Linked DNA regions of Homo sapiens: region 1 is linked to region 2. Evidence: fine-mapped expression QTL. A gene starts in region 2. The other region holds a variant in brackets. All regions are shown on one strand. Distances are from middle to middle. Region 1 overlaps RPA1 (replication protein A1). Region 2 holds the start of RPA1 (replication protein A1).

Region 1 (15,701 bases), 68 kb after region 2:
CTTGTCCCAGCTACTCATGAGGCTGAGGTAGGAGGATCGCTTGAGCCCGAGAGGTCAAGGCTGCAGTGAGCCATGATCGTGGCACTGCACTCCAGCCTGGGTGACAGAGTCAGACCCTGTCTTTAAAAAATAAATAAATAGGCCGGGCACGGTGGCTCACGCCTGTAATCCCAGCACTTTGGGAGGCTGAGGCAGGCGGATCACGAGGTCAGGAGATCGAGATCATCTTGGCTAACACAGTGAAACCCTGTCTCTACTAAAAGTACAAAAAAATTAGCCAGGCGTGGTGGCGGGCACCTGCAGTCCCAGCTACTAGGGAGGCTGAGGCCGGGGAATGGCATGAACCCGGGAGGTGGAGTTTGCAGTGAGCCACGATCGCGCCACTGCATTCCAGCCTGGGTGACAGAGCAAGACTCCATCTCAATAAATAAATAAATTAAATTAATAAATGATAAATAAAATGAAATGTTAGCTTAGCAGGACAGTTCTACGTTTAGGCTCATTTTTTGTAAACTATAAACTTTTCATTGAACTAAGATGAAGAAAATTTGTTTTAGTTTGTGGAAACATCAGCCTTTCTGTTAAACTCCACAGCGCAATCTCCCGCACACTTGTTTGATTTGATATTTATCACACGTGTGCGTCATTGTAGTTCTTGCCCTGTGTGATGAGATGCTCTTTGCTTCTTAGAAGGATAGCGTGGGTTAAAGGAAGTGTGAGCCCAGGGTGTGATACCGTTGCTGTGTATTGAGAGCGCTTTTCACTTTTAACTGGTTTCGTCACCTTATTTTTCGTCATAACATTCTCTCTATTAAAAGCCTTGTACCCATGCAAAATGAAGATGTAAAATCGTCAAAATGATGCCTTAAAGAAAAACCACTCGTGTTTCTACAAAGGCTTTTACTTCAGCAAGTGGATTCTTTGAGATCTGCTTTCTTCCTTGACTTTGCCCTGTTTAATGTTACACCACAGCCCAGTGGGAGACATTTGATTGCTCATTTCCTTTGCCAGGTCAATTTGGTGACTGACAGAGGCTCACGGGCAGGCTCTTCAGTTGTCTGGGTGCCCAGCAGTGACAGAGCCGTCTCATGGAACTCCTCCTAGGAACTACAGAGTGGGCAATTGAAAATGCAGAGAACTCCCCCGATTCACTCAAAACCCTTCATCCAAAGCCAGCTGCACCTCGACAGGAACTAATCTGATGGGCCTCTCTCTGTCACCCAGGCTGGAGTGCAGTGGCTCGATCTCAGCTCGCTGCAACCTCCGCCTCCCGGGTTCAAGTGATTCTCCCGCCTCAGCCTCCTGAGTAGCTGGGATTACAGGCACCCGCCACCATGCCTGGCTAATTTTTGTATTTTTCGTAGAGACGGAGTTTCACCATGTTGGCCAGGCTGGTTTCAAACTCCTGGCCTCAAGTGTTCCACCCGCCTTGGCCTCCCAAAGTGCTGGGATGACAGGCATGAGCCCACTGCACCTGGCCCTCTCTGGAAATTATTTTAATAAGTGGAAAAAGAACATTAACCTCTCCCCATCTTCTCAGTGTGTCTTTTTATTATTTCTTTGCTGAAATAATGTAGAATTGTGTTTTTTAGGTAAATATTGCAGATTTTCAAGAGAATCAGTGGGTGACTTGTTTCCAGGAGTCTGCTGAAGCTATCCTTGGACAAAATGCTGCTTATCTTGGGGAATTAAAAGACAAGGTCAGCCACATATTTTATTATAACTTCTATAACTTTTAATGGTTCTCATTCTATAACACTGACCCCACACATTTTTTTTTTTTTGAGATGGAGTCTTGCCCTGTTTCCTAGGCTGGAGTGCAGTGGCGCGATCTCAGCTCACCGCAGTCTCCGCCTCCCGGGTTCAAGTGATTCTCCTGCCCCAGCCTCCTGAGTAGCTGGGATGACAGGCACCCGCCACGATGCCCGGCTAGTTTTTGTATTTTTAGTAGAGACGGGGTTTTACCATGTTGGCCAGGCTGGTCTCGAACTCCTGACCTCATGATCTGCCCGCTTCAGCCACCCGAAATGCTGGGATTACAGGTGTGAGCCACCACACCTTGCCCAACACTGGCCCTCTTTTTGCTGTTTAATATTTTTTAGTTTGTTTCTTTTTGGTATTGTTTGTATACAGTTTCTCAGCCTGATAATTATTTAAGAGCTCATCTGATGTTATCTAATCTTGTCCATTTGGGATGTGCTTAACAGTGAAATAATGTATATAAAAGTACTTTAAAACCAAAGCACTTTCTAAATCGAAGCCACCCGTTTCTCCTGTTCCTATTAGCACATCAGAGCTAGTGTGCCTGAGATGACTTAGGTCGGGAGGTGTCCCTGAAACAACCTGAATTATTACAGGCATGCTTTTTTAACATAGTAAATACCTTCCAGAAAAGTTGAGTCAGATCCTGGTTAAAATGCACGTATGTCAAGTTCCTGGGTCTGTCCTATAAAACAATAATAATAAATGCACATATAAGGTGCCTGCCATTTCAGCCCATCAGATGCAATTCTTATGCGGTGACTTTCTTCCGTAAGGTAACTTTGTCCATTTCATTTTTATAAGTTTGCATTTTCACATATTAGGTTTATTTAATGTACAGAATAGATTGCTAATAATGCTGAATTTAGGAAAGGTAGTTGCTCAGGTAAAACATAAGGAAGACCAATAAAAGCTATGTTTTCTGGGCCACATAAATGGGCACCTTTCTGTAGATGGCTTTTCCCCCGATTTCCTCCAAATTGGTTGGAATACTTGTAAAGGCCACAAAGATGAAAGGCTTTGCCATTTGTTCTGGTGTGTTTTTCTTTTTCTTCCTGTCCCCAGTTCTGTCTGTTTGGGCTCTGCCCTGACTCTTTTTTTAAATTGTCCATGAGAGCTCTCAAAATAGTCTCAACAAATCCTGTTACAGAAATAACTAGAATTGACTTTAAAGTGTGATAGTATCTTTTGTCTGTTTTTACCTGGTCTTCAATTTTCGTATCAGATTTTAAGGCCCGAGTAAGCCTTTCAGGATTTTTATGAGCTTATTATATTTGACTGTTTTTTCTGCCGGTGAATGAGGACATATAGAAACTTCCCCGAGGAACCGTGAGATCCTGGAGTTCGCACTCCACGCCCCTCATCTTGGAAGCATAATGGCAGCCGGTGTAATTTTCTCAAGCTTTAACCCATTGTTTTATTTTCATATCTGAAAGTCCATTTGGTTTGGGTTTGGGTTTTGATCAAGTAACCTTTACAGAAAAGAGTTCTGTATAGCAAAGCTGCTTTCACGCCGTGCGTGACTTGCAAAAAACACTAGGTTGGTGTGAACTATTAATTAGTTTTTCTTTTTTTTTGTCAAAGGTCTCAATCAACTCTGTTAATATAGTTATTACACATTTATTTATGCATCTTTATACAAACTATATTCTCTAATTCTTGTCTGTTTACCAGACTTTTTTTTTTTTAATAAACTTAAATTGCATTTGAGGAGTGAGAGAGGGAAAAGGATTGTTTTTAGGCCTTCCCTAGCCTTTGCGCACCTCAACAGTCTTCTCTGCTTGCACACCAAATCAGTAGCTATAAATACAGAGGCTGAAATCACGAATTATATTGAACTTTCTTCTGAGTGTTTTTCCTTTTTTTCTTTTTTTTGAGACAAGGTCTTGCCTCATCACCCATGTTGGAGCGCCGTGGTGTGCGATCATGGCTCACTGCAGCTTCAAACTCTTGGGCTCAGACAGTCCTGCCACCTCAGTCTCCTGAGTAGCTGGGACTACTGGTACACGCCACCATACCTGGCTTAAGTTTTTTTTTTTTTTTTTTTGGTAGAGATGGGGTTTTGCTATGTTCCCCAGGCTATTCTTGAACTCCTGGCCTCAAGCAGTCCTCCCACCTCGGTCTCCCAAAACATTGGGATTATAGTCACGCGCCACCATACCTGACCTCCTAATTTTTTTTTTTTTTGAGAGTCTCGCTCCATAGCCCATGCTGGAGTGCAGTAGTGCAGTCTCAGCTCACTGTAGCCTCCGCCTCTCAGGTCGAAGCAATTCTTCTGCCTCAGCCTCCCTAGTACCTGGGATTACAGGCACCTGCCACTATGCCCAGCTAATTTTTGTGTTTTTAGTAGAGATGGGGTTTCACCGTGTTGGCCAGGCTGGTCTTGAACTCCCAACCTCAAGTGATCCACCCGCTTCCGCTTCCCAAAGCGCTGGGATGACAGGTATGAGCCACCGTGCCCAGCCTTAAAGTCTTAGAAACTTCCTAAGAGCGTTTTTAATTTTTTGTGTCTAGTAAAGCATACATAACCAAATTTGCCTTTGTAACCATTTTTACGTGTACAGTTTAGTGGCGTTAGGTACATTCACATTACTGTGCCCCTGTCACCACCATCCTTTTCCAGTACTTTTTTAAATAGGCAAATTCATAGAGACAGACGACAGCCTTGTGTTTTCCAAGGATGGAGGGAAGGGGAGAATGGAGACACACTGTTCATGGGTGGCGATTTGAAACTCTGCACATTAAGCAATAGCTCCTTTTCCAAAACCCTCTTCTCCCTGGCCCTGACAACTGCCATTCTACCTTCTATGAATGTGATTAGTGTTTTAATTTTCAATAAGATTCTACTTAAAACAGTTTCATGTAATGTTACCTGTAGATGAGTCATTCCTAAGTAATTTGAAACTACCCAGGAGATGCATTTTCAGAAGTCTTTTTAAAAGTCTTATCAGTATTTGCAAGTTGTCCAGTGGTTTCCATGTGTCAAGTTTTATGTTTGTTTTTGCAGAATGAACAGGCATTTGAAGAAGTTTTCCAGAATGCCAACTTCCGATCTTTCATATTCAGAGTCAGGGTCAAAGTGGAGACCTACAACGTAAGTAAGGGCCTGGGCAGCAGGGTTGGTGGTGGGGAGGTGCTGTTTGTCACCTACGGCAGTGTCGTGACACTCCCTGGCAGGGAGTTACTGTACTCACTGCCAGACCCCGGTGCTGACTTTGCCCAACACAGGTGCTGTTATGATCCCCATTTTCAGATGAGGAAGGAGAGAGAGCTTAAGTGTCTTGTCGAAACAATGGCGGGGGGGTGGGGAATACAATATGGATTTTTTTGTTTGTTTATTTTTTTTATTTTTATTTTTTTTCAGTTAAATCCTAGGATTTTTTCGTCTGTGTTCTGACAAAAAAATTATAACGCATGCAGTAGAGTCATATCTTTGACAAATTTAGATTGTAGAAAAGTATATTAAGTATATGAGCCGGGCGTGGTGGTGTGTGCCTGTGGTCCCAGCTACTTGGGAGACTGAGGCAGCAGTTCAAGGCCAGCCTGGGTAACATAGTGAAACCCCGTTTCTAAGTCAGTCAGTCAGTATATGAAACAAAGGCCACGTGTGGTTAAAACTACCTTGAAAATTCCTGAAATTGCCCATAATACCATATAGTATTTATTTATTTATTTATTTATTTATTTATTTATTTATTTATTTGAGACAGAGTCTCTGTCACCCAGGCTGGAGTGCAGTGGGACGATCTTGGCTCACCACAACCTCCGCCTCCCGGGTTCAAGTGATTCTCCTGCCTTAGCCCCTCGAGTAGCTGGGATTACAGGCGCCCGCCACCATGCCCGGCTAATTTTTGTATTTTTAGTAGAGACGGAGTTTTCACCATGTTGGCCAGGCTGGTCTCGAACTCCTGACCTCAGATGATCCACCCGCCTCAGCCTCCCAAAGTGCCAGGATTACAGGCATGAGCCACCGCGCCCAGCTTAGTTATAGTTATAATCAAACAGTATTGAGCATGGTCTGCCAGGTAACTGTTCTACATCCTTTACGTGGAACATCTCACTTGAGCCTAGTAACCCTATATGTAGAAACTGTGGTTACCCTATTTTGCCACTGAAGGAATTACATACAGAGAGACACGGGCATTCAGAGAACAAGTCACTTGCCTAAGTTGTATGCTAGCAAGTGGTCGAGCTAACGTCCAACCCAGGCAGCCTGACTTCAGAGCTTTGCTTTTGATCATGCTTACGAGTATCACGGGATTTAGTACCGACCAAGCACACAGCAGTGTGACAGCCCCGAGCTCGCCTGTGCAGCCTTCCTGGGTATCACTCCGTTCTGCCCGGAAAGGCACCATTCAGGCCGTGAGTGTAAACGTACGAGTGGGCAGGGGGAGTGGTAGAAACGCCCCTGCTGATTGCAGGGTTTACTCACGTATTTACCTTAACGCCCGTTCTTCTGCGACTACTATAAACATTAAATGAGATAGGGGATCAGATGTCACCGTGAAACAATGTCAGGGAGTGGGGTGGGGCTGGGGGGGATTTTTGGGGCCATTCAGCCCCATCGTGTCTGGACAGGGAAGGTGAAGTGAAGAGAGGCTGCCTCCCCAGAGCTGAGACAGGACAGACTCGGTCCTCTCCCTCTGCTGCAGGTGCTCTTCCTTTCACCACTCAGCTTTTCTTGAAATGAAAGTTTGAAAGTTTAGCTTTCAGAACTAGCTGTGTGGCTTTGTGCAAGTCACATGTCCTCTCTGGGCTGTATCCCCTGCAGTAGGGAGAATAAATGAAACTAGAGAAACCCTCTAAAGTCCATCTCACTAGGATTCTAGGCTTCTGGGTGTTTGGGAGCTTGGGTAAAGAATCAGAAGGGCCTGTGCTGGAGAAAGGACCTGTTCACTCGCCCAGCCCCAGACATTCAGGAGGAGGCTGTCACTCACTGGAATGACTGAACTCTGAACCCGTGCGTCTGTTCCCTCCCGCTGGGCTCACTGAAACCACTGAAGCAAAAGGGGTTTCACTGCTCCACACCACACTTTCACTGCTCACAAACTACTTCTCCCTTTTTGAAGGACGAGTCTCGAATTAAGGCCACTGTGATGGACGTGAAGCCCGTGGACTACAGAGAGTATGGCCGAAGGCTGGTCATGAGCATCAGGAGAAGTGCATTGATGTGAGAGGAGCAGTGCCAATCGGGCAGAAGTTTGCAAATAGGCAGAATGGAATCGATTTCCTCCCACCTCCGTGTGACGATCCCATGTTAGCTACACAGTGCAGAGGCTCTTGATGGTGGACTAAGCAATTTCCCCCCTCGTGCGCATCTCAGAACCCATCGGTAGGCAAAGGAAAATACGCTCAGGTGGTTGTGGTGTAGACTGTGTCAGGCCTACGGAGTCAGCCAGTGGCTAGCGCAAGACCAGTCACTCCCTCTGCCTTCAGGCTTCTGTCAATTTCATTATCATCAAGCAGGAATTATGTCGTAAGTCACTGACCCTAACTGCAGACCATGAAGTAAATTATGTAACTAGGTTTTTGCTTCTCCAGTGGTGACCACCCCCCCCCATCCCCGCTCACAACTTGGGTTCTTCTCAGCGGGGCGAGCTGAGAAGCGGTCATGAGCACCTGGGGATTTTAGTAAGTGTGTCTTCCTAGAATT[C/G]GAAGGCTCTCTCTTTCTAGAGGTGCTACATAGTTGGTAATGCTTGGAATGGCAATAGGGTAGAATGATTAATCAAAGGCATATCTTCTATATCTGAAGAGTATCCTTCCTTCAGGGTTTAATAGACTGAGTCAGATGGGTCTGATATTAATCAAAATTGTCTCTTCTGAGGACCGCTGATAAGCATTGACTTGCCGTCCCCTAAGGAAATCCGAGCGGCTACAAAGCGTTTCTTTACTTCTCACTTCAATTAATGCTGCGCTTCGCTTGGTGAGTGCGTACTTTTTCTACCTGTACACATTCCTGCATTCATGTATTTTGTTTTTTTTGACTAAAGCTATGTTACATGGAAAGGATTTTGAAGCCTTTTGTTTCCCTTGCTTTGTTTTAATAAACAGTATATTCTTTGGTTGTGAATCCTACTTTCTTTGAATGCAAAGAGTTCCTATAACTGGAAAGCAATTAATTAGCCTTCATAATAAATGTTCACTTGGGGGGGATGTTAACTCATTATAAACCCGAAGATTAGTCCAAGGCATGGAGATCCTTCTTCCTAGTGTTTGCAGCCCTGAAATGCATCTTTCAAAGCATGAAAACACTAAAAACAAAAAGCCATTTTGCCTGAGGATGCTGATGATCTGGCACTTGGGATTTTATTGATGTTTACGCAGCAGTCTAACACCAACCACGCTTTGAAATGTGTACAGACAGTGAGCTGGTAAGAAAACAGTAATTATGCTAGTGGGCCTTTCAGTCAGCAAAAGCATGCTCGCTCTGTGTGTTCCTAATCATATTAATTATCTATCCGGTGGCTGCAACACACCGCCTGCCATTGGCCGCACATCTCGCCGTCGTACCCCGGCAGTGCGGCGGTCACTCTGCAGCCAGAGGACCTGCTGTTCATCACTGCACATGCCGCCTGCGGAGGCTTTTGGATATGGGGAGTGATGGTGTCCTGTCTGTCTCCCCCCTCGGTGTCTGCCGTTGACATAGGGGCCAGCCAGCCCTAGACGGGATGACTTCCGTTCCTGAGGACAGACACAGAGGGACTCCTGCTCAGCCTCACTAATTGTTTAGACACATTCCTTCCTACCCTTCTCTAGTCTCAGGAGATGGTAACTGGGTCGCATTTCAGTCTCTGACTGAGGCCTCAGCCATTTTTACGGAAGTTCTTTTCTGTCTGACCTTGCTTATAAAGCATCGACGAGAAAATTACAGTCTTCAACCCTCTTCTGGATTGACAAATTGTGGCTGGGAAGTGGCGATCTAGCTTTCAGCCCAGTAACCAGTCTTTCATGCCTACTACTCCCAGCATTCCCTCCTCTCCCCACGTGTCTGTCCACACAGTGAAGAGGCCTGACCAGCCGTGGTACCAGGACAGGACGTGTCCAGGGAACGCTGACACCTGTCCTCGCGCCTTCTCAGTGGCCAGCGTGATGAAACCAGCACGTCTCCGTGGATGTGATTGGGAACCCAGGGGCAGTGCCAGGGGGAGGGCTCCCTCGAGGAGGCTGTTTCTAACAGATTTCCCCACTCAAAGATCAGATCACCAGCAGAGGAGCATCAGAAACTGGCTCCACTGTTGGGCTTTTCAGAGATTTTGGTCCCTGCGGGTTGCCTAAATAGATTCTGGCCCACAGTTTACCTCGAAAGGCTGTTGATGTTGTTCTGTTTCTCCTCTTTCACTTAGAGATCAATGTTGATTTTGCGTACACCATGACATCAGCGTTAGGCAATTAGGAGAAAAAAATCTAATCATTTCGCCTTTATTTCAAGTGGTTCTTGAATTCCCTCCAGTCTCATTGTGAAAGGGGCAGGGAAAAAAATAAAAGGGTAATAATCTGATTTCTGTCCATATTTCCAGTGTTTTATGCTTTCCATTAAAACCTTGCTAATCTCTCGCGTGCTGTTCCTTTTTTGAACTGCAGGGTCAAAAATGTTCCCCTCCCCCACTTCTGTTTCCTGAGTGGGCTGTCTTCAAAAAGTATAAATACTATTGATCGTGGTATTTAATACACTAATGAAACCCATGGTTATTGACTACATAATTAATATACTGTCCAAAAGTGAAGTTTGGCCGCCCAGTATGTAAAGGTTTATATTGACTCATGTTTCTTTGGCAATATGCCGCCCAAGGTTTTATTTATAGAGGATGAAACAGGTTGTTTGGTCTCCTTTTCTTCTTTTCACCTGTTAGAAGGCCACTATTCCCCTAGTAAACTGATTGTTTCCTTGTCTCAAAGGGAAGATTCCCCCCACTCCCCGGCCACCTTTTATGTGGTTTGTTAACTCTTAGTCTTATATCCACTCCGCTGGTAGAGTTCTGGCTTTTATAAACACCTTTGGAAGTCATCGGTTCCTCAAAAAGAGAGCATAGATGTTTAATTTTCACTTATTCAAAAAAACTGGTATTTTTGTTATTAAGACATTAAGTAAATGTTTAAGAAAAAAAAGGATAATTTGGACTATTGACTTTCTTATGCAAGTAATCATATTTGTTTGTTTGTTTGTTTATTTATTTTGAGACGGAGTCTTGCTCTGTCACCCAGGCTGGAGTGCAGTGGCACGATCTCAGCTCACTGCAACCTCCGCCTCCCAGGTTCAAGCGATTCTGCCTCAGCCTCCTGAGTAGCTGGGACTACAGGCATGTGCCACCATGCCTGGCTAATTTTCTGTATTTTTAGTAGAGACGGGGTTTCACCGTGTTAGCCAGGATGGTCTCGAACTCCTGACCTTGTGATCCACCTGCCTCGGCCTCCCAAAGTGCTGGGATTACAGGTGTGAGCCACCGCGCCCGGCCTCCATGTTTATTTTAGGAAAATAATCTACAGTTAAGAAAAACAAAATTGGCCTGGCACAGTGGCTCATGCCTATAATCCCAACACTTTGGGAGGCTGAGGCGGGCAAATCGCTTGAGCCAAGGAGTTCGAGACCAGCCTGGGTAACATAAGGAGACCCCCGTCCCTACAAAAAAATAAAAATTAGCTGGGCGTGGTGGCACACACCTGTAGTCCCAGCTACCTGGGAGGCTGAGGTGGGAGAATCACCTGAGCCGTGGGAGGTCAAGGCTGCAGTGAGCCATGATTGCACCACTGCACCCCAGCCTGGGCGACAGAGCGAGACCCTATCTCAAAAAAAGGGGGAGAAAGGGTGGGTGCGGTGGCTCTCCCTTGTAATCCCAGCACTTTGGGAGGCCAAGGCAGGTGGATCACCTGAGGTTAGGAGTTTGAGACTAGCCTGGCCAACATAGTGAAACCCCACCTCTACTAAAAATACAAAAATTAGCCAGGTGTGGTGGTGGGCTCCTGTAATCCCAGCTACTCGGGCAGCTGAGGCAGGAGAATCACTTGAACCTGGAAGGCAGAGGCTGCAGTGAGCTGAGATCGCACCACTGCACTCTAGCCTGGGCGACTGAGCGAGACTCCATCTCAAAAAGGCAAAAGAAAAATAAAATTACTTAGGATTTCACCAACCAGTAATAAACACTTGTGTAGCTGGCTACTTTTTTCTTCTTTTTTTTTTTTTTTGAGACAGAGTCTTGCTCTGTCGCCAGGCTGGAGTGCGGTGACACGATCTCAGCTCACTGCAACCTCCACCTCCCGGGTTCAAGCAATTCCCCTGCCTTGGCCTCCCAAGTAGCTGGGACTACAGGCATGTAGCTGGACTACAGCCTGGTAGTTGGGACTACAGGCATGTGCCACCGTACCCAGCTAATTTTTTGTATTTTTAGTACAGATGGGGTTTCACCATGTTAGCCAGGATGGTCTCGATCTCCTGACCTCGTGATCCGCCCTCCTCGGCCTCCCAAAGTGCTGGGATTACAGGTGTGAGCCACCGTGCCTGGCCCTGGCTAGTTTTTTCTATGTATCTATGTGTATAGAGTTTAAATTAAAAATGGTAGCATAGTAAGCATATCATTTTGTAATGATTTTCTCCTAGGATGGGCATCTTTATTTTGATAAAAATTGCATCAGAACCACCATTAGGCCAGGTGCAGTGGCTCACACCTATAATCCCACACTTTGGGAGGCCAAGGCAGGTGGATCACTTGTGATCAGGAGTTCAAGAGCAGCCTGGCCAACATGGTGAAACCACATCTCTACTAAAAACACAAAAATTAGCCGGGTGTGGTGGCTCACCCCTGTAATCCCAGCTGCCCGGGAGGCTGAAGCAAGAGAGTCCCTCCCCGTGAGGCAGAGGCTGCAGTGAGCCAAGATCACACCATGGCACTCCAGCCTGAGCGACTGAGGGAGACTCCATCTCAAAACAAAAAAATCACAAACATAATTAAAAGATTTACTAATCATTAATAGCTTTAGATAAATAATTTTAAGTGGTGTTTGGCTCTTTGGATGTGTTTTCAGCCAATTCACTCTTGCAGGATGCTTATACTTTTTCTAATTGTTATAAATTCAAGATTTCACGAGCAGAAGCGTTTATGCTTTGTGGCACTGACAATCCATGCCTTTTCTTGTTCTGTTAGGTTCTCTCATTGATTTTTCTTTGCCTAAGTCCAGGGATAACTCCTCTAACCCTGTGTACCACCAAGGGCTGGTAGGTAATTTGAGCAGGTCCTTCCTTGGAAGCAGGTAGATTAATGTAGGGAGGGGAGGGAAAAAGAAGGCTTTGGAGCCCTGGTTTCATCCTGCCTACTACACAGACGGGGGCTGTGCCTATGAAGAGGCGAAACTCTTGTTTCCCACCACCCTGGCAAAGAAGGCCTCTTGAGAATACATTTGACTTGCCTATAAATCAACCTGATTATCTAAAGCTATTAATGATTATTAAGTCTTGTAATTATATTTGTAATGATGGTTTTGAAAAGTCATTGAGAAAAGTATGTAGCCACTCGTCTTCATGGTTCCAGCCTGTCAGTATGTGACTTTATTTTTTGAGATGGAGTCTCTGTCGCCCAGGCTGGAGTGCAGTGGTGCGATCTCGGCTCACTGCAACCACCACCTCCTGGGTTTAAGTGATTCTCCTGCCTCAGCCTCTTGAGTAGCTGGGACTACTGCACGCCCAGCTGATTTTTTGGGGTCTTTTTGTTTGTTTGTTTGTTTGTTTTTTAGACGGAGTTTCACTCTTACCCAGGCTAGAGTGCAGTGGCACAATCTCGGCTCACTGCAACCTCTGCCTCCCAAGTTCAAGCAATCCTCCTGCCTCAGCCTCCCAAATAGCTGGGACTACAGGCGCCCGCCACCATGCCCAGCTTATTTTTTGTATTTTTAGTAGAGACGGGGTTTCACCGTGTTAGCCAGGATGGTCTCAATCTCCTGATCTCGTGATCTGCCCGCCTCTGCCTCCCAAAGTGCTGGGATTACAGGCGTGAGCCACCACGCCCAGCCTTAGTATGTGACTTTTTTTTTTTTTTTTTTTTTTTTTGAGATGGAGTTTCGCTCTTGTTGCCCAGGCTGGAGTGCAATGGCGTGATCTTGGCTCACTGCAAACTCTGCCTCCCAGGTTCAAGCAATTCTCCTGCCTCAGGCTCCCGAGTAGCTGGGATTTACAGGTATATGCCACCGCGCCCAGCTAATTTTCTATTTTTAGTAGAGACCATGTTGGTCAGGCTGGTCTCAAACTCTCGACCTCAGGTGATCCGCCCACCTTGGTCTCCCAAGGTGCTGGGATTACAGGCGTGAGCCACCGCGCCCAGCCAGTGTGTGACTTAAAGATATCTGTCCCTGAGAGCTATGGACTATTTAGAGCAAGGCTTGGGGGCTAAGTAGTCATATCACAGTGATATTAAAATGCAGTTGAGGGGGAAATTGCTGGAAGACTGGAGTCAATCAGGAAAGACTTCACAAAGAATTGGGTGATTTGAGACTCACTGATTAGAGCCTTCATTTAGGTCGGGGCTGTCCGGTCTGTATGAGGCAGACCGAGAGCAACACTGGTAACAGTGGCATGCGCTGTGTTCGTCACTGACACGAAGCCACGCGGTGCCACGGAGGCTGGGTAGAGGTACTGAACGGAAATGGGTTCCTGGTGCAAATAGGACAGTGTTTGACTATGGGCTGAGTGAAAGTTTCTTTTTTTTTTTTTTAATTTTTTATTTTTTTGAGATGGAGTCTCTCTCTGTTGCCCAGGCTGGAGTGCAATGGCACGATCTCGGCTCACTGCAACCTCCACCTCCCAGGTTCAAGCGATTCTTCTGCCTCAGCCTCCCGAGTAGCTGGGATTATACAGGCGTGTGTCACCACATCTGGATAATTTCTGTATTTCTAGTAGAGACAGGGTTTCACCATGTTGGCCAGGCTAATCTCGAACTCCCGACCTCAGGTGATCCGGCCTCCTCGGCCTCCCAAAGTGCTGGGATTACGGGCGTGAGACACTGTGCCCGGCCAGTAAGAGGTTCTTGTGTTATCCATTGCCATACCCCTAACCTGCATTGGGTTTGTCGTGACAGTGTCTGACTTGCCAGTGAGCTCGTGGGTGTTTGTGAGAGGCTTTGAACCAGCCACCTGGCTGCATTTGCAGCTTCTCAGGCTCTTAGTAGCTGTCGCTTTACACCCTCTCCTTAGCTGTTGATGAGTCTCAAAATGTATACTTTTCAATAAAACAAATCTTTTTTTCAGCCTTGAATAGACCCTGTGAAAAACTGAATCCCACCTGCCTCGTGAGAAATATTTATATAGCCAACTCAGAAGTGATCGTGTAAACTTTTAATAATTGCGAGCCGTTCTTATAAAATTATGCCCGTTCCCTAGTGCATTACCCAGTTGGTAATTGGAAGTTTGTGCTGTCATTAAAAATGACAGCTTCCTCAGATAACATTCTCGGTGCTTGTAAAATGCAAATAACCAAACCTATATTTAACTTATGTGTGTTGCAGCTTCCTTTCAACGGCCAGGTAACCTAGGGGGCTGGTGCCTGTTAAAGAGGAGGGCTTGCCGCGGGGAACTGCAGCTTTGTGCTCTTCAATGCCCAGCCCTGAAATGGAGTTAGAACAGGCAGGACTTTTTAAAAATAAGCCCCAGTTGGACTCTCATCTCCTCTCACCGTTGACACTGCTGTTCATGTTGAAGTTTATTTATATCTTCAGTCAGCCATGGTACAGAGGTCATTTCCATTGGCCTAAAATTTTAGAGGCTTATATGTTTGCCTGGGAAAGCTGATCTCCTCAGCACTTAGGCTTGTAATGCAAAGCCTGTCTCTTGCAGAAGCTTTTCTGCTTCCATAACACGGCGACTCCCACCGTCACCACCACCACCAATTTCCTGCTCCACGATTTATTCAAAATCTGAATAGCTGTATAAGGTGCATCCCTGCAAATGAGCTCTCCTCCTCTAATGGGCTCTTTCCAGGCAGCAAACCTTTCACAAAGGAGCCACTAATTAAGCAAAAAACAGTTTGTCTTGCTTAGCCACGTTTCAGGAGTCCAGCAGTCAGTTTAGAAGACGGCAACATCCTTTACAGCCGTGATGGTAATAATATTCTTTTGTCTCATACCAGGGTCTCTAACTGGCAATTTGGGTGTCTGGGTGTGCGTGTGTCCCTGTTCTGTCTTGCTCTCCATCTTGAAGAGGAAAATTTGTTTCCGTGGACTTTTATTTTTTTGGAAATCCTTGTTAAAGTTACTCTGTAAGGATCAAACCCACACCAAGCCTTCCTGGTTGGAAAGAGGCGCTGCCTGAGTGTCGATTTGCAGTGGGGGCACGCGCAGGCTCTCCGGGAAAACGCCTGTCAGTCAAAGCGGCTCTCTCGTGAGAGCGTCTGACTGCTCGGTTCCCTTCCATCTCCGTCTGCTGGAGAATTGAAGGTGTTAGCAGGTTCACCGGGCAGCAACGCTCAGACCGATGTGCAGGCCACCGCCGCATGCTGCACGTGCCTCCTAATAGAACCTTGAGCTCCCGCAGCCAAGCCTCATTTTGTGTGTGTGTTATTAAAGTGCCGGTGACTAGGAAAAGCAGAGCCCTCTTAATTAGAGAGCGACATCCTTGCATAGTGGTAGTGTTCCGTTTGTGGCATAATTGTCACAGCAAATTACCAGTTAGGTTAAATATTGGGCTGGTAGTTCTCAGCGCTTCCATTCTTGGCTCCACCCCGCCCTCCCCACCCTCTCCTACCCTCACCATCACCTGCTAGCCTGCACTTTTAACTTGATCTTCTGCCAAGTGATAGCTTTTAAGTGAGGCTTAGAGCAGATACACTTTACAGCAGGAGCAATAAATCTAGCTTTGGGCAAGTTACAGGATGCCAGGAACATCTGAATGAGGGGGGCAATTTTTGCTGTGTGTATGGGGGTGTGCTGGGTCGTCTCGTGGGGCTCAGCTATAAAACTGGGTCC
Region 2 (15,701 bases):
GGCAGAGGTTGCAGTGAACAGAGATCGCGCCACTGCACTCCAGCCTGGGTAACAGAGTGAGACTCTGACTCAACCTGTTAAAAAAAAAATTAAATGCCAGAAGAAACAGTTAATTTAAAGTAGCTGTCTCTGGGGAATAAGAATCAGGAATGGGGAAGAGTGGACAGGGAGTTGCTGTTTTTCCTGATAAGTTTTGAAGCACTATTTGATTTCTTAAAGTATGTATGCATATTATTCTGATAAAAAATTAAACTAAGGAAGGAAAATATTTTCACTAAGGCATCTGGTCTACATAGTTTTACAGAATTTTTCTACTAGCCTTTAAGAAGCACATAATTCCTACATTATATAAGCTATTTCAGAGCACAGAAAAAGGCGGGAAGCTCTCCAATTCATTCTGAGGCTACCATAACCCACCATGGTATCAGCTGGGATTACAGGTGCCCGCCACCATGGCCAGTTAATTTTTTGTATTTTTAGTAGAGACAGGGTTTCATTCACCACGTTGCCCAGGCTGGTCTTGAACTCCTGACCTCAGGTGATCCACCCGCCTTGGGCTCCCAACATGCTGGGATTACAGGTGTGAGCCACTGCACCCGGTCAGATGATTTAAAAACTCTTACCTTTTATTTACACCACCAATCACCAATTAGAGAATGTAATTGGGGGGAAAAGCCTTATTCACAATAACAACAAAAACCTTACAAGAAGAATAAATCGAACATGAAATGTGTAAGACCTATATAAAGAAAACTATAAAACTTTACTTAAGGACATAGAAGAAGCCTTAAAGAAATGGACATACCCTTTATTTGGATTAGGAAATTTAATATTGTAAAGATGTCAGGTCTCCTTAAGTGAATCTATAAATCCAACACATTCCCAATCAAAAGCCCAACAACATTTTTTATAGAACTTGAGAAGCTGGCCGGGCACGGTGGCTCACGCCTGTAATCCCAGCACTTTGGGAGGCTGAGGCGGGTGGATCATGAGGTCAGGAGATCAAGACCATCCTGGCTAACGTGGTGAAACTCCATCTCTACTAAAAATACAAAAAAAAAAAAAAAGATAATAAAATAAAATTAGCTGGGCGTGGTGGCAGGCGCCTGTAGTCCCAGCTACTCGAGAGGCTGAGGCAGGAGAATGGCATGAACCCAGGAGGCAGAGCTTGCAGTGAGCCGAGATCACGCCACTGCACTCTAGCTTGGGTGACAGAGCGAGACTCCGTCTCAAAAAAAAAAAAAAAAAAAAAAAAAGAACTTGACAAGCCAATTCTAAAGTTCACATGGGGGAAATGCACACAAAATACCCAAGATATTCTGGAATACGAACAATGACTATGTGTGTGCGAGCAGGAAGCTGGCCTCTGGGCCACTTCCTGGGAGCCGCCTGGGTACTGAGACTCCCCTGCTTTCAAGTACCCTTTCTCTCTACTTCCGGTAAATCTCAGTGGGGAATCCATTTTTTGAGGCTGAAGAAGGGTAGACCCCATTTCACAGCAGGGTTGGGCACATGACACAGGCCTGGCCAATCAGAGGAGTCTCATACCTCTGGTTGAAGGGATGTGCATGTGATCAAAATTCAGTTGACCTGAGCCCCACCCAGAAGTTTTCTGCTGAAACTTCAGAAAGACAGCCTCTTCCCCTGGGGTGTTATTACACTATCAGGGTGTGCCCAGGGCTGTGAATGGTTATAGCACCCACTAGATGGAGAGAATCTGTCTGACACATGAAGAAATACACATTCTGATGACATCCTTTGAGCCCCTGAATACAACCTAGCCTGAAAATAGATCTCCCTTCAGATAGCCTAGTTTCATAGCTAAAAGTTTCATACTTTGAAGGGGGTTTCTGTTACTTGAAACTGAAGAGTTCTAGAGTTTCTAAAATGACACTATAGGCCAGGTGGGGTGGCTCACGCCTGTAATTCCAGGACTTTGGGAGGCCAAGGTGGATGGGTCACCTGAGGTCAGGAGTTTGAGACCAGCCTGGCCAACATGGTAAAACCCCGTCTCTACTAAAAATACAAACATTAGCCGGGCATGATGGCGTGTGCCTGTAACCCTAGCTACTTGGGAGGCTGAGACAGGAGAATCGCTTGAACCCACGAGGCACAAGTTGCAGTGAGCTGAGATTGCGCCACTGCACTCCAGCCTGGGCGACAGAGGGAGGCTCAGTCTCAAAAGAAAAATAATACTAATAAAATACACTATAAAGTCACAGTAATTAAAACCCTTTTGTTCCGGCACAGATCTAGAGCCTAGAAACAAATTTGTGGATAAGTAGTGATATGGCGTGGCTGTGTCCCCACCCAAATCTCATCTTGAACTGTTATTTCCCAGAAGCCTGTGTTGTCGGAGGGACCTGATGGGAGGTAACAGAATCGTGGGAGTGGTTTCCCCATGCTGTTCTCGTGATAGTGAGTGAGTTCTCACGAAATCTGATTATTTTATTTATATTTATATTTTTATTTTTTGAGATGGAGTCTTGCTCTGTTGCCCAGGCTGGAGAGCAGTGGCACAATCTCAGCGCACTGCACCCTCCGTCTCCCAGGTTCAAGCAATTCTCCTGTCTCAGCCTCCTGAGTAGGTGCGGTTACAGGCACATGCCGCAATGCCTGGCTAATTTTTTTTTTGCATTTTTAGTAGAGATGGGGTTTCACCATGTTGGCTGGGCTGGTCCTGAACTCCTGACTTCAAGTGATCCTCCTGCCCCAGTCTCCCAAAGCGCTGCGATTACAGGCGTGAGCCACCGCGCCCGGTGAAATCTGATGATTTTATAAGGGGCTTTCCCCCTTTGCTCAGCACTTCTCCTTCCTGCCACCCTGTGAGGGCTGTGCCTTTTTTTCCTTCGTCTTCCACCATGATGGTAAGTTTCCTGAGGCCTTCCCAGCCATGTGTGAGTCAATTAAACCTCTTTTCTTTATAAATTACCCAGTCTTGGGTATTTCTTGATAGCAACGTGAGAATGGAGTAACATGAGTAGGAATTTAATTTTAATAACTGAGGCATTTGCAAGCACTGGGGAAAGGATGCGTCATGCATTAAATGCTACAGAAAAATTGTCCACCTGGAAAAAAAGTGAGAATATTCCTTCACATAGTACACAAAATCAATTGGAGATGTATACATACATCATAACATAATGTTGTACCCCTTAAACGTATATTTTGTCAGTTATACCTCAATAAAGATGGAGGAAAAAGTGCAGAAGGATTAGAGAGCTAAAGGTAAAAAAATGTTAGCAGAAAACAATGAACATTTTTATCAACTCCCAAGTAGTTGGAATTACAGGCACATGTCATGTTGTCTGGCTTCATTTTTATACAGCCATATCTGTCATTTTCTTTCTTTTTTTTTTTTTTTTTTGAGAAATAGTCTTGTTCTGTCACCCAGGCTGGAGTGCAGTGGCACAATCATGGCTCGCTGCAGCCTTGACCTCCCAGGTTCAAGTGATCCTCCCACCTCAGCCTCCTGAGTAGCTGGGACGACAGGCACATGCCACCATGCTTGGCTAATTTTTAAAATTTGTTTATAGAGATGGAATCTCACTATGTTGCCCAGGCTCCTGGGCTCAAGCAATCCTCTCACCTTTGGCTCCCAAAGTGCTAGGTTTACAGGTATGAGCCACCGCACCCAACCTCATCTTCTTTTATACCTTCTGGGTTGTGTCTTGCTTAGGATGGTTCACTCCACCATCCTAAGGAAGACAGGAGGATCGCTTGAGCCCAGGAGCTTGAGGTCAGCCTGAGCAACATACTGAGACCTTGTGTCTAAAAATAAATTTTAAATGAAATTTAAAAATTTGAAACATATATACACAATTTATATACAATGTAAATGTAAAACATTTACATTGTAAATAGGGTAAAAAAGATAAACAGATTGGGAATAATTTATACAACAAATAGTAACTTACATAGCAAAGAACTATACAGCTAGATTTATGAAGATCTCCTACAAATGAACAAGAGAATAAAGACAACCTGCTAGAAAATGGGCAAGGGACACAAATAGGCAATACACACGAGAAATAAAAATGCACTGGGGGGCCGGGCGCAGTGGCTCATGCCTGCAATCCCAGCACTTTGGGAGGCCAAGGCGGGCGGATCACCTGAGGCCAGGAGTTGGAGACCAGCCTGCCCAACATGGCGAAACTCCATCTCTATTAAAAATACAAAATTAGCCGGGTATGGTGGAATGCGCCTGCAATCCCAGCTACTCGGGAGGCTGAGGCAGGAGAATCACTTGAACTTGGGAGGCGGAGGTTGCAGTGAGCCAAGACTGTGCCACTGCACTCCAGCCTGGGCAACAAGAGCAAAACTCTGTCCAAAAAAAAAAAAAAAAAAAAAAAAAAAGAAAAGAAAAGAAAAGAAATGAAGACTAACAAAAAAAGTATAACCCTAACTGTACCGAGTATCTGAACTGGCAAGGCTCAAAACTGAACTCATTATTTCATTCAATTAATATACGAGCGCCTACTATGTGCCTGGCACAAAGATAAAGACATCAACCTTGAACGTGAAAGGTGTGTGTTTCTGGATCTGCAAATATATAAGGTTCTGCTTTATACGTCATTTTAAGCACTAATAACAGCCAGTAACTAAACTAAGAACTTTATATACATTACCAAGTTGTCATTCAATTAATGTTTACTAACCACTTATTTTTTGACACTGCACTATTTTTGTCTATAGAAAGACAAACAGGCCGGGCACAGTGGCTCATGCCTGTAATCCCAGCACTTTGGGAGGCTGAGGCGGGCGGATCATTTGAGGGCAGGAGTTCAAGACCAGCCTGGCCAACATGGTGAAACCCTGTCTCTACTAAAAATACAAAAATGTGAGCTGGGCATGATGGTGTACGCCTGTAATCCTAGCTATTTGGGACGCTGAGGCATGAGAATCGCTTGAACCCAGGAGGTGGAGATTGCAGTGAGCTGAGATTGTGCCACTGCACTCCAGACTGGGTGACAGAGTGAGACCCTGTGTCAAAAAAAATAAAATAAAATAAAAATAAATAAATAAATAAATTAGCCGAGCATGGTGGTGTGCGACTGTAATCCCAAATACTCGGGAAGCTGAGATACGAGAATTGCCTGAACCCGGGAGGCGGAGGCAGTGGGCTGAGATTGCGCCACTGCACTCTAGCCTGGGTGACAGAGCGAGACAGTCTCAAGAAAAAGAAAAAAAGAAAAAAAAAAAAAGAAAAACAAATACAAACACGGTCCCTTCCCTCATGAAGTTCACAATCTAGCGGCAAAGGCAGGCATTAGTCAAAAGAGCACACACATATATAAAGGAAAATCACACAGCATTGTAAATGTACAAAGAGTGAAGATGGCCCAGCTGAGGCTCAGGGAGAGCTTTCCTGAGGAAAGATCTGGCTAATCCTGCAGGATGACAGAAGTGAATTAGTTCACAGGACACGCTGGGATAGAAACGAACCAGGAAAAGTACTTCAGGCATTTTCCATCAAAAAGAGATGTTACCAGGCCAGACATGGTGGCTCACGCCTGTACTCCCAGCACCTTGGGAGGCCAAGGTGGGAGGATTGCTTGAGCCCAGAAATTTGAGACCAGCCTGGGAAACAAGCAAGACTCAATCTTTATTTAAGAAAAAGACACATTACTTCAGAGCAAATGACAAAATAGAACATTTTTTGGCTCACAATTCCCTTGTTAAAGCTTGATTTACTTACTGAAGAAGTGAAGAGGAGTGAAGAAAGATATCCCTCAAGGTCTCTGCTGTAGAAATTGTGACCTGAACAGACGTCGGGAGTGAAGCCCACTTTTGAAGCAGATATGATTTCCATTCATCCACAGGCAGATCCATGCTGCTTTTGATCTATAAAATGAGTAAGAAAATAGGAATCTTACAAATGCACAATTTTAGAAAATCAAGAGTTCAGCCAGGTACGGTGGCTCACACCTGTAATCCCAGCACTTTGGGAAGCCGAGGTAGGTGGATCACGAGGTCAGGAGATGGAGACCATCCTGGCTAACACAGTGAAACCCCGTCTCTACTAAAACTACAAAAAAATTAGCCAGGTGTGGTGGCGCACACTTGTAGTCCCAGCTACTCGGGAGGCTGAGGCAAGAGAACTGCGTGAACTGGGGAGGCGGAGGTTGCAGTGAGCTGAGATCACGCCATTGCACTCCAGCCTGGGTGACAGAGCAAGACTCTGTCTCGGAAAAAAAAAAAAAAGGAAAATCAAGATTTCATTCAAGGAAGCCTGAAACAATAAAATCAATTCTTGTGGTCTTTTCCTCTAGTTTATATGCTAAGGAAGGATCTATATTTTCTCACAGCAATTCACTCAACATCCTTCCATTCAGAAATATTTACTGAAAGACTACTTTGTCACAGGCACCATGCAGGTGATGGTTATACAAAGACGAAGCAGACTAGATAGCTACCATCTGTGCTCTTAGATCCTCTTTTTTTTTTTTTTGTGAGGCAGAGTCTTGCTCTGTCACCCAGGCTGGAGTGCAGTGGCACCATCTCGGCTCACTGCACCCTCCGCCTCCCAGGTTCAAGCAATTCTCCTGCCTCAGCCTCCGAGTAGCTGGGATTACAGATGCGCGCAACTACGCCCGGCTAATTTTTGTATTTTTAGTAGAGACGGGGTTTCACCATGTTGGCCAGGCTGGTCTCGAACTCCTGACCTCAGATGATCCGCCAGCCTTGGCCTCCCAAAGCGCTGGGATTACAGGCGTGAGCCACCGCGCCCGGCCTGATCCCTCTCTAGTTTCTCTGAGACACATCCCAGATTTTTCTTTCTCACCCACCCCAGCAACTATTCATTTAACAAGGTATTTCCCTCTCTTACATAGTTCAGCGTTCTGATTAAGTCCTCACCATCTCGTCTGGCATTCTTCCTAGAGTGTTATAATTAATGTCCATGCCATTGGCACCACTCCCCACTTTCAATCCAGCCTCCAACACTGAGACAGAAGTCAGTGCTCTGCCCTTAAATTCATCAACGCTACTCCAAGCATACCAGGAAGCCCAGGACAAAACCATCCTTACTTGACCCTTGTCTGACTTTCTAATTCTCAGGTGTCACTTACTCCTCTGCATGCACCCTTGCATACTGAACAACTCATTGCTATCCCCGGCTTGCCAGGCTATTTCAACTCTCCAATGTTTTGGCATAGGCTACTCATGCTTTCCGGACCAACCCTACCCTGGCTTATGGAGTCCACCTGGAAAATTCCCACACGTTCTTCGACTCGGCTCAAATGGCACCTCCTCCGGGACGGCGTCCCTGATTTCCCAGCTGTGATTCCAACACCCTTGGGGCCTGTACCACGTCTACCTGGAGGTGGGGTTACTGACGGCATAAAGTGCCCCCACACACTGTCCTCTTCTCTAAGGACGGGGGCCGGGTCTGATTCCCTTTCGGAGACCCCCCACCCCCACCCCCCACCGCCACGGTGCCAAGCTCAGGGCTTGGAGGCGGGAAGTCAGCCCCGCGTTGCTGGACGAATCGGGTCACTACTGCGACTCTATTTAGCAGCGGAGGTCTCAAGGAACAGCTTTAACCTCCTCTGGGATACCAACCCGTGCACTCGCCAGAGACCGAGGCGAGAACGCCTCGAGAACCGCTCAGACGCGCCCGGAACTGCGCCCTGGTCTCCCTCCCAGCGCCCGCGCAGCTCCTGGCGCGCCCCTTGGCGCCCCGCTCCGCCCCGCACCGCGTCCGGCGTCCCGCGCCAGGCCTCGCTTGGGACCATGGGTGGGTCACGTGGGCCGCGCCTCGGCCAATGCGGCGGCTGCGTAGCGCCCGGGCCCGCCCCTGAGCCGCGCGCACGTCGGGGGCGGGAGCGGTGCGCGCAACTTCTCGGGCCAATAACTGCGCAGCGCGCGGGACCCGGGTGGGGAAGCTGGAGCTGTTGCGGGGTCCGCGGGGAAGTCTTGGCGGTGGAGCCATGGTCGGCCAACTGAGCGAGGGGGCCATTGCGGTGAGGAGGTGCCGGGGGCTGGGCCGGCGGTCCGGGGTGGCTGCGGCCCCGAGCCTCGCGGAGTAGAGAGGGGGAGGGGAGCCCGGGGCGACGGGGGATGAACGCGAGGGGAGGAGATGGCGGGGGGCGGTGGGGACCCGCCGGGCGTCCCTCTAGTGTCATCGCCCCCTCCTCAAAGCATTCTTTCGATCGTCTTTAAAACATGCTCACATTTTTCCTACGTAAGAACAAACTAAATAAACGCTTGCCTTTCTCTGCATCTTCCACCTGCGGACACTTTCTGTCTCTTCTCCTTTCCCCACCCACAGCCAAACTTCTTGTCTGGTTTCAGCCACTTCCTTTCCTCGCCTTTCATCAACTCTTTAACCCACTCCAGTCATCCCTTTGATCGCTGTAGAAAACCCTGGCTGAAGGTACCAGTGGCCTCCAAGTTGCTAAATCCAGCCCTTTTCCGTTTTCAGCTTACCTGAGTTCTCAGCAGCGTTTGCGTTTAAGCCCTGCTTGCTTCAGGTCACACCCTCTTCCTTGGTTTTTAGTGGCTCAGCTTGGCAGGTCTATCCCCGTCTTATTTGTAAGTCCCTCTTTGTAAATTTTTGTTGAATCAAGGCTCCCTCTAGGCCCTCTTGACTCCCGAGGCAATTTCTTTTTTTTTCTCCAGCCTGGGCGACACTCACTGTCGCCCAGGCTGGAGTGCAGAGGCGCGATCTCGGCTCACTGCAACCTCCGTCTCCCGGGTGCAAGTGAGTCTCCTGTCTCAGCCTCCCGAGTAGCTGGGACTACATGTGTGCGCCACCACACTCGGCTACTTTTTGTGTTTTTATTAGAGACTGGGTTTCATCATGTTGGCCAGGCTGATCTCGAACACCAGACCTCAAGTTATCCGCCCGCCTCGGCCTCCCAAAATGCTGGAATTACAGGCATGAACCACCGCGCCTGGCCCCAAGGCAATTCCATTGCCATCTATTAATATATGTCAGTTGCTCACAAATTTCTTTGTACAGAGCCACCTTTACTCTAAAAGACAAACTTCCGTCATCTGTCTGCTTATTCCATGCTTCAGAGGGTTTTAAGTTCAGTATACGTATCCCAAAGCAAATTCTTTATCTTTCTAAGTCTGGGCCTCTTGATCCCTATCTCCACGGATGGCACCATTATCTATTCAGTTCAGTGCTAACCAGAAATTGAGAAATCATTCCTCCTATATTGTCCATTACCTGGGCATCCAGTCCCTCACGAAGTGAAGTGTATTTTGCCTCTGCGTAGATCTATCAAGCCCACTGGCTTCTCTCCATCCATACTGGCACCGTCTTTTTTTTTGCCTGAGCTGCTGACTTCCACTCAGCATACGTTCCTGCCACCATTCCCATCCACAGCATACTCTCAGCCTACCTCTCCAGTCACCCCCACATTTTTTTTTAAATTTAGATTTCTGGTATATTCCATACTCCTACCTTCTTCCATGGGGCCTTTGAACTTTTTTTTTTTTTTTTGAGCTGGAATCTTGCTCTGTTGCCCAGGCTGGAGGGCAGTGGCGCGATCTCGGCTCACTGCAAGCTCTGCCTCCTGGGTTCACGCCATTCTCCTGTCTCAGCCTCCCGAATAGCTGGGACTACAGGTACCCGCCACCACGCCCGGCTAATTTTTTGTATTTTTTAGTAGAGACGGGGTTTCACCGTGTTAGCCAGGATGGTCTCGATCTCCTGACCTTGTGATTCGCCCGCCTCGGCCTCCCAAAGTGTTGGGGTTACAGGCGTGAGCCACTGTGCCCGGCCTTTTTTTTTTTTTTTTTTTTTTTTTTGAGGCAGAGTCTCACTCTTTCTCCCCATACCCCCCCACTACCGCCCCAGGCTGGAGTGCGGTGGCGCAATCTCGGCTCACTGCAACCTCTGCCTTCTGGGTTCAGGCAGTTCTCGTGCCTCTGCCTCCAGAGTAGCTGGGATTACAGGCATGTACCACCACACCTGCGTAATTTTTTGTATTTTTAGTAGACACGGGGGTTTCACCATGTTGCCCAGGCTGGTCTTGAACTCCCAACCTTAGGTGATCCACCCTCCTCGGCCTCCCAAAGTGCTGGGATTACAGAAGTGAGCCACCGCACCCGGCCCTGAACATTTTTTTCCCTCTGCCCACTGCCTGGGTGGTTCTTCACTCTTCCCCACACTGGCAAACACTATCTTCGTATCTCAGCTCATTTGTGACTTCCCTTACTAGGCTAAATCCCTTTGAGACCCCAATTCCTGTTCATTCACTTATTGAATTATTTATTTTTTTTCTTTTTGAGATGGAGTCTTGCTCTGTTGCCCAGGCTGGAGTGCAGTGGCACGATCTTGACTCACTGCAACCTCCGCCTCCTGGGTTCAAGCAATTCTCCTCCCTCAGCCTCCCAGGTAGCTGAGAATACAGGAGACTGCCATGATGCCCGGCTAATTTTTGTATTTTTAGTAGAGATGGGGTTTCACCATGTTGGCCAGGCTGGTCTCGAACTCCTGACCTCAAGCAATCCACCTGCTTCGGCCTCCCAGAGTGCTGGGATTACAGGCGTGAGCCACCGCGCACGACCCCATTCACTTATTAGATGCATGACTTGAGGCAAGATACTAAACTGTTTCTTTTCTGTAAAATGAGAGCAATGATATCTATTGCATAAGGTAAGTAGGAGGATGGAGTGAGTTATTAAATTTAAAGTGCTTAGCACACTGATACATAGTAAATGCTCAGTGTTTATGTTACCTATTAATAATTGCAGTTTTATGTTTGTTGATTTATCAGTTTCTTTTTAAAATTTTAAAATTATTGTGTTTGTTTGTTTGTTTGTTTTGAGACAGAGTCTTGCTCTGTTGCCCATGCTGGAGTGCAGTGGCACATTCTCGGCTCACTGCAACCTCTGCCTCCCGGGTTCAAGCGATTCTCCTGTCTTAGCCTCCCTAGAAGCTGGGATTACAGGTGCCCACCACCACACCCTGCTAATTTTTGTATTTTTAGTAGAGACAGGGTTTCGCCATGTAGGCCAGGCTGGTCTTGAACTCCTGGCCTCGAGATCCACCCACCTTGGCCTCCCAGTATGCTGGGATCACAGGCTTGAGCCACTGTGCCTGGCCTAATACTTTGTGTAAATTCCATGAGGCCTGCAATCATGTCTGGGTTATTTTACTCTGCATTGTATCCCCAATACCTGGAGAAGTGCTGGCAAGTTTTAGGTGCTGAATAAATGCTTGCTAGTTGCATGAATGAATGAGGCAGTGGGAAGAAAGGGACAGGTGAATGGGGAAGAAAGGCAGCTTGGGGGAAAAACAGGAACAGGAAGAACTATTGTTGGACTCAAGTGAATATTTAAATAAATTAGGAATGTGTGAATGCTGAAACCGGGGAAGTGATTTTAAATTGTAGCTTTCATTTACTTTATAGCTGCTACCTTGTGTCTTTAAGACAAATTAAGAATGTTTCTAGGCCAGGCGCAGTGGCTCACGCCTGTAATCCCAGCATTTTGGGAAGCCAAGGCAGGCAGATCACCTGAGATTGGGAGTTTGAGACCAGCTTGGCCAACATGGAGAAACTCTGTCTCTATTAGAAATACAAAATTAGCCAGGTGTGGGGGCGCATGCCTGGAATCCCAGCTACTTGGGAGGCTGAGGCAGGAGAATCTCTTGAACCCGGGAGATAGAGGTTCCGGTAAGCCAAGATCGCACCATTGCACTCCAGCAACAAGAGCAAAACTCCATCTCAAAAGAAAAAAAGAAAAGAATGGTTCTTCACTTTTAAAAAGACTGATCATGGGCCAGGCGCAGTGGCTCATGCCTGTAATCTAAGCACTTTAGGAGGCCAAGGCAGGTGGATCACTTGAGGTCAGGAGTTCGAGATCAGCCTGGCCAACATGGGGAAACCCTGGTCTACTAAAAATACAAAATTAGCTGGGTGTGTTGGCGTGTGCCTGTAATCCCTGCTGCTTGAGAGCCTGAGGCAGGATAATTGCTTGAACCCGTGAGGCAGAGGTTGCAGTGAGCCGAGATTGCACCAGTGCATTCCAGACTGGGCGACAGAGTGAGACTGTCTCAAAAAAAAATAAAGAATGATCATGGAGATATTTAAATAATTTGATAAGTTTTTTTATTTTTTAGAGATGGGGTCTCACTCTGTTGCCCATGCTAGTCTCAAACTCCTGGGCTTAAGCGATCCTCTCGCCTCAGCTTCCCAAAGTGCTGTGATTATAGATGTGAGCCACTGCACCTGGCCATGTTTTTATATTCAAAATTTTATAAACCTATTTCCAGCGTAGGTGAAGTATTTTGTTCATAAATGAAGAATGAAAGTTTCACATGTGTTTGTGGTGATGGAATGAGTTGGAGAACCTTTGCTGACTTTCATTATCAGCTAAAGCAGGTATCATTTTCGTTCAAAAGACACAGGCCACAAAGGGTACGCAAATACCACACACATGTGAAGGCGTTTGGGCAAGAGTCACATGATAAAATAAGAGATGATGCATAGAACTCTTGTGGTCAACAGAATACATAGCATTTGTATCTTAATTATATAACGAAAGGGGAAGGGAACTAATGTTTTTGACTATTTCTAATGTGACAGATGCTTTAGTAGTCAGTACTTAAGTAACCCTAGAAGATAGCTATTATACTCCCATTTTACAGAGGAAGGAAGTACAGAGAGGTTGAATAATGTGTCCATGGGGTGAAGATTTGAACACATGTGCCCTTGAGTATTACATTTGTTGCTTTATATACTTACTAGGGATTTTTTTTTTAAAGGGTCTCACTCTGTTGCCCAGGCTGGGGTGCAGAAGCACAATCTCAGCTCACTGCAACCTTCACCTCCCAGGTTCAAGTGATTCTTTTGCCTCTGTCTCTCGATTACAGACGTGCGCCACCACGCCCAGCTAATTTTTGTATTTTTAGTAGAGATGAGGTTTCGTCATGTTGTCCAGGCTGGTCTTGAACCCCTGGCCTCAAGTGATCTGCCGCCTCGGCTTCCCCAAGTCCTGGGATTACAGACTTGAGCCATTGCACCTGGCCGTAATTTTTTTTAAATGACAGAGTCTTGTTCTTTGTCTCTCAGGCTGGAGTGCAGTGGCATGATCATAGCTCACTGCAACCTCCAACTCCTGGGCTCAAGTGATCCTTCCACCTCAACCTCTCCAGTAGCTGGGAGTACAGGTGCATGCCACCATGCCCAGCTAATTTTTTTTTTTTTTAATTTTGTGTAGAGATGGGGTTTCGCCATCTTGCCTAAGCTGGTCTCTAACTCTTGGTCTCCAAACAGTTCTCCTGCCTTGCCTCCCAAGTCTTTGGGATTATAGGCATGAGCCACTGTGCCTGGCCTTGTCCCTTAAAATGAGTTACATTTGTAAACAGCTGATTTCTTTGGAGCATCGTCCCCATATACTTTTCTTTCATAAGTGATCTCATCCTTCTTCCACCCAACCTTCCCCTTGAATTTGTTGTTTGTTGTTGTTTCCATTTTAGCAGAATTCATGTTGCTCTGATAGGGGCTCTTTTCAAACTGATGTCTTATCCTTCTTAGTACCTCAAACTAGGTCTTGTTCAGACATGTTATAACAAGTTAGTATGAGTTTATTTTAGTGCAAAAAAAATTTTTGAAATGCATGCATAGTTTTTTCATAATGCACATTTTTCGTGTACTTTTTGAATCCCCCTCATACATGCACGTGGTTTTAAAATCAAACGGAACAGAAAGGTGTTCATGGCCGGGCATGGTGGCTCACATGTGTACTCTCAGCACTTGGGGAGGCTAATGCAGGAGGATCCCTTGAGGCCAAGAAAGAGTTTGATACCAGGCTGGGCAACATAGCAAGATCCTGTCTCTATTTCATTTAGAAAGAAGAAAGAAAGAGGTGTTTAATGTAATTACTGACCTCCTGCCTTACCTTGTCCAGTACTGTTCCCCAGAATAACTGCTTTTTAGAAAAATCACTGTCATTGACATTTTGCTTACGTATAGTAAATTGCACCTTTTTTATTTATTTATTTATTTATTTGAGGCAGAGTTTCCTCCTGTCACCCTGGAGTGCAGTGGCGTGATCTCAGCTCACTGCAACCTCTGCCTCCCAGGTTCAAGCAGTTCTCATGCCTCAGTCTCCTTAGTAATTGGGGTTACAGGTGCACGCCACCACCTGGCTAATTTTTGTATTTTTAATAGTGATGGGGTTTCACTATGTTGGCCAGGCTGGTCTCGAACTCCTGACCTCAGATGCTCCTCCTGCCTTGGCCTTCCAAAGTGCTGGGATTACAGGCATAAGCCACCATGCCCGGCCAAATTGCACGTATTTTAAATGTACAGCTTGATGAACTTTGACAAATGTGCGCACCCCTGTAACCACATTGCCCCTGTGGAGATATAGAATACTTCCATCAACGCACAACTCCTCTTGCTCCTTCCCCACCTCCATCCTCACCCTAGGCAACCAGTGTTCTGGTTTCTACCTTTGTAGGTTAGTTTTGCCTTTCCTAAGACTTCATATAAATGGAATCAAATAATATCTATCCTTTTGTGTCTGGCTTCTTTCAGCAGTTTTTTTTTTTTCCCCAGAGGTAGGGTCTCTGTCACCCAGGCTGGAGTGCAGCGACACAGTCATGGCTCACTCCAGCCTTGACCTCCTGAACTCAAGAGATCCTCGCACCTCAGCCTCCTGAGTAGCTGGGACTACAAGTGCATGCCACCACTCTTGGCTAATTAAAAAAAAATTTTTTTTTTTTTTTTTGAGACACAGTCTTGCTCTGTTGCCAGACTGGAGTGCAGTGGCGCAATCTCAGCTCACTGCAACCTCTGCCTCCTGGGTTGAAGCGATTCTCTTCCCTCAGCCTCCCGAGTAGCTGGGATTACAGCCGCATGCCACCATCCCCAGCTAATTTTTGTATTTTTAGTAGAGACGGGGCTTCACCACGGTGGTCAGGATGGTCTCGATCTCTTGACCTCGTGATCCACCCGCCTCAGCCTCCCAAAGTGCTGGGATTACAGGTGTGAGCCACCACGCCCGGCCTAAAAATATTTTTTGTAGCGATGGAGTCTTGGTGTGTTGTCCAGGATGATCTTGAACTCCTGGGCTCAAGTGATCCTCCCACCTTGGCCTCCCAAAGTGTTGGGGTTACAGGCACAAGCCACCACTGTGGACCAAAATGGTTTTTGAGATTTACCCATGTTAATTCAGTAATCTGCACCTTTTTATGGCTCAGTAGTATTCCATTGTATGACTATAACAAAATTTGTTTATTTACTTATTATTGCACATTTGGGTTATTTTCATCTTTTGGCTATTATAAATGAAGATGCTATGACCATTTAAGTACAACTCTTTTTGTGGAAATATGTTTTCGTTTCTCTGGGATAAATATCTAGGAATGTAATTGCTGGGTCACAGGTAACTGAATGTGTAAAAGAAATCGCCAACCTTTTCCAGTGTGATCATGAGAATTCTAGTTGCTCCATATCCTTGCCAGTCATCAGTCTTTGATTTCGAGTATTCTAGTGAATGTGTAATGGTATCTCACTGTGCTTTTATTTGTATTTCTCTGGTGGCTAGTGACGTTGAGCATCTTTTCGTGGGCTTACTGGCCATTTGTATATCTTCACGAAAGAAGTGTCTGTTCACATCTTTTGTTCACCTAAAAATTGGGTTTTGTGCTTATTAATGAGTTGTGAGAATTCTTGATTCTTGCTAGGTCTTTTGTTAAATATAAATATTACATATATTTTTTCCCAATCTGTGAC

Evidence for each region.
Region 1: its variant is fine-mapped to the expression of RPA1 in whole blood (TOPMed, PIP above 0.99). The same link has a PIP of 0.9 or more in T cells and lung.

What each region holds. Positions count from the first base shown.
Region 1 is chr17:1,890,241-1,905,941 of GRCh38, forward strand. It overlaps RPA1 (replication protein A1), which reads left to right. Exons shown (of 17, transcript NM_002945.5): 15 at 1,593-1,700; 16 at 4,769-4,855; 17 at 6,831-9,842. The coding sequence ends at 6,935. Among named protein-coding and RNA genes, the nearest start is that of RPA1, 68 kb to the left of the region's middle. RefSeq lists enhancers at 13,929-13,978, 14,059-14,108. The variant C/G (reference allele first, on the strand shown) is at 7,415.
Region 2 is chr17:1,822,163-1,837,863 of GRCh38, forward strand. RPA1 (replication protein A1) reads left to right here and starts at 7,843. Exons shown (of 17, transcript NM_002945.5): 1 at 7,843-7,964. The coding sequence starts at 7,932. SMYD4 (SET and MYND domain containing 4) reads right to left here and starts at 7,740. Exons shown (of 11, transcript NM_052928.3): 1 at 7,564-7,740; 2 at 5,699-5,844. The coding sequence starts at 5,832. RefSeq lists enhancers at 1,783-1,922, 8,739-9,239 and a silencer at 7,592-8,111.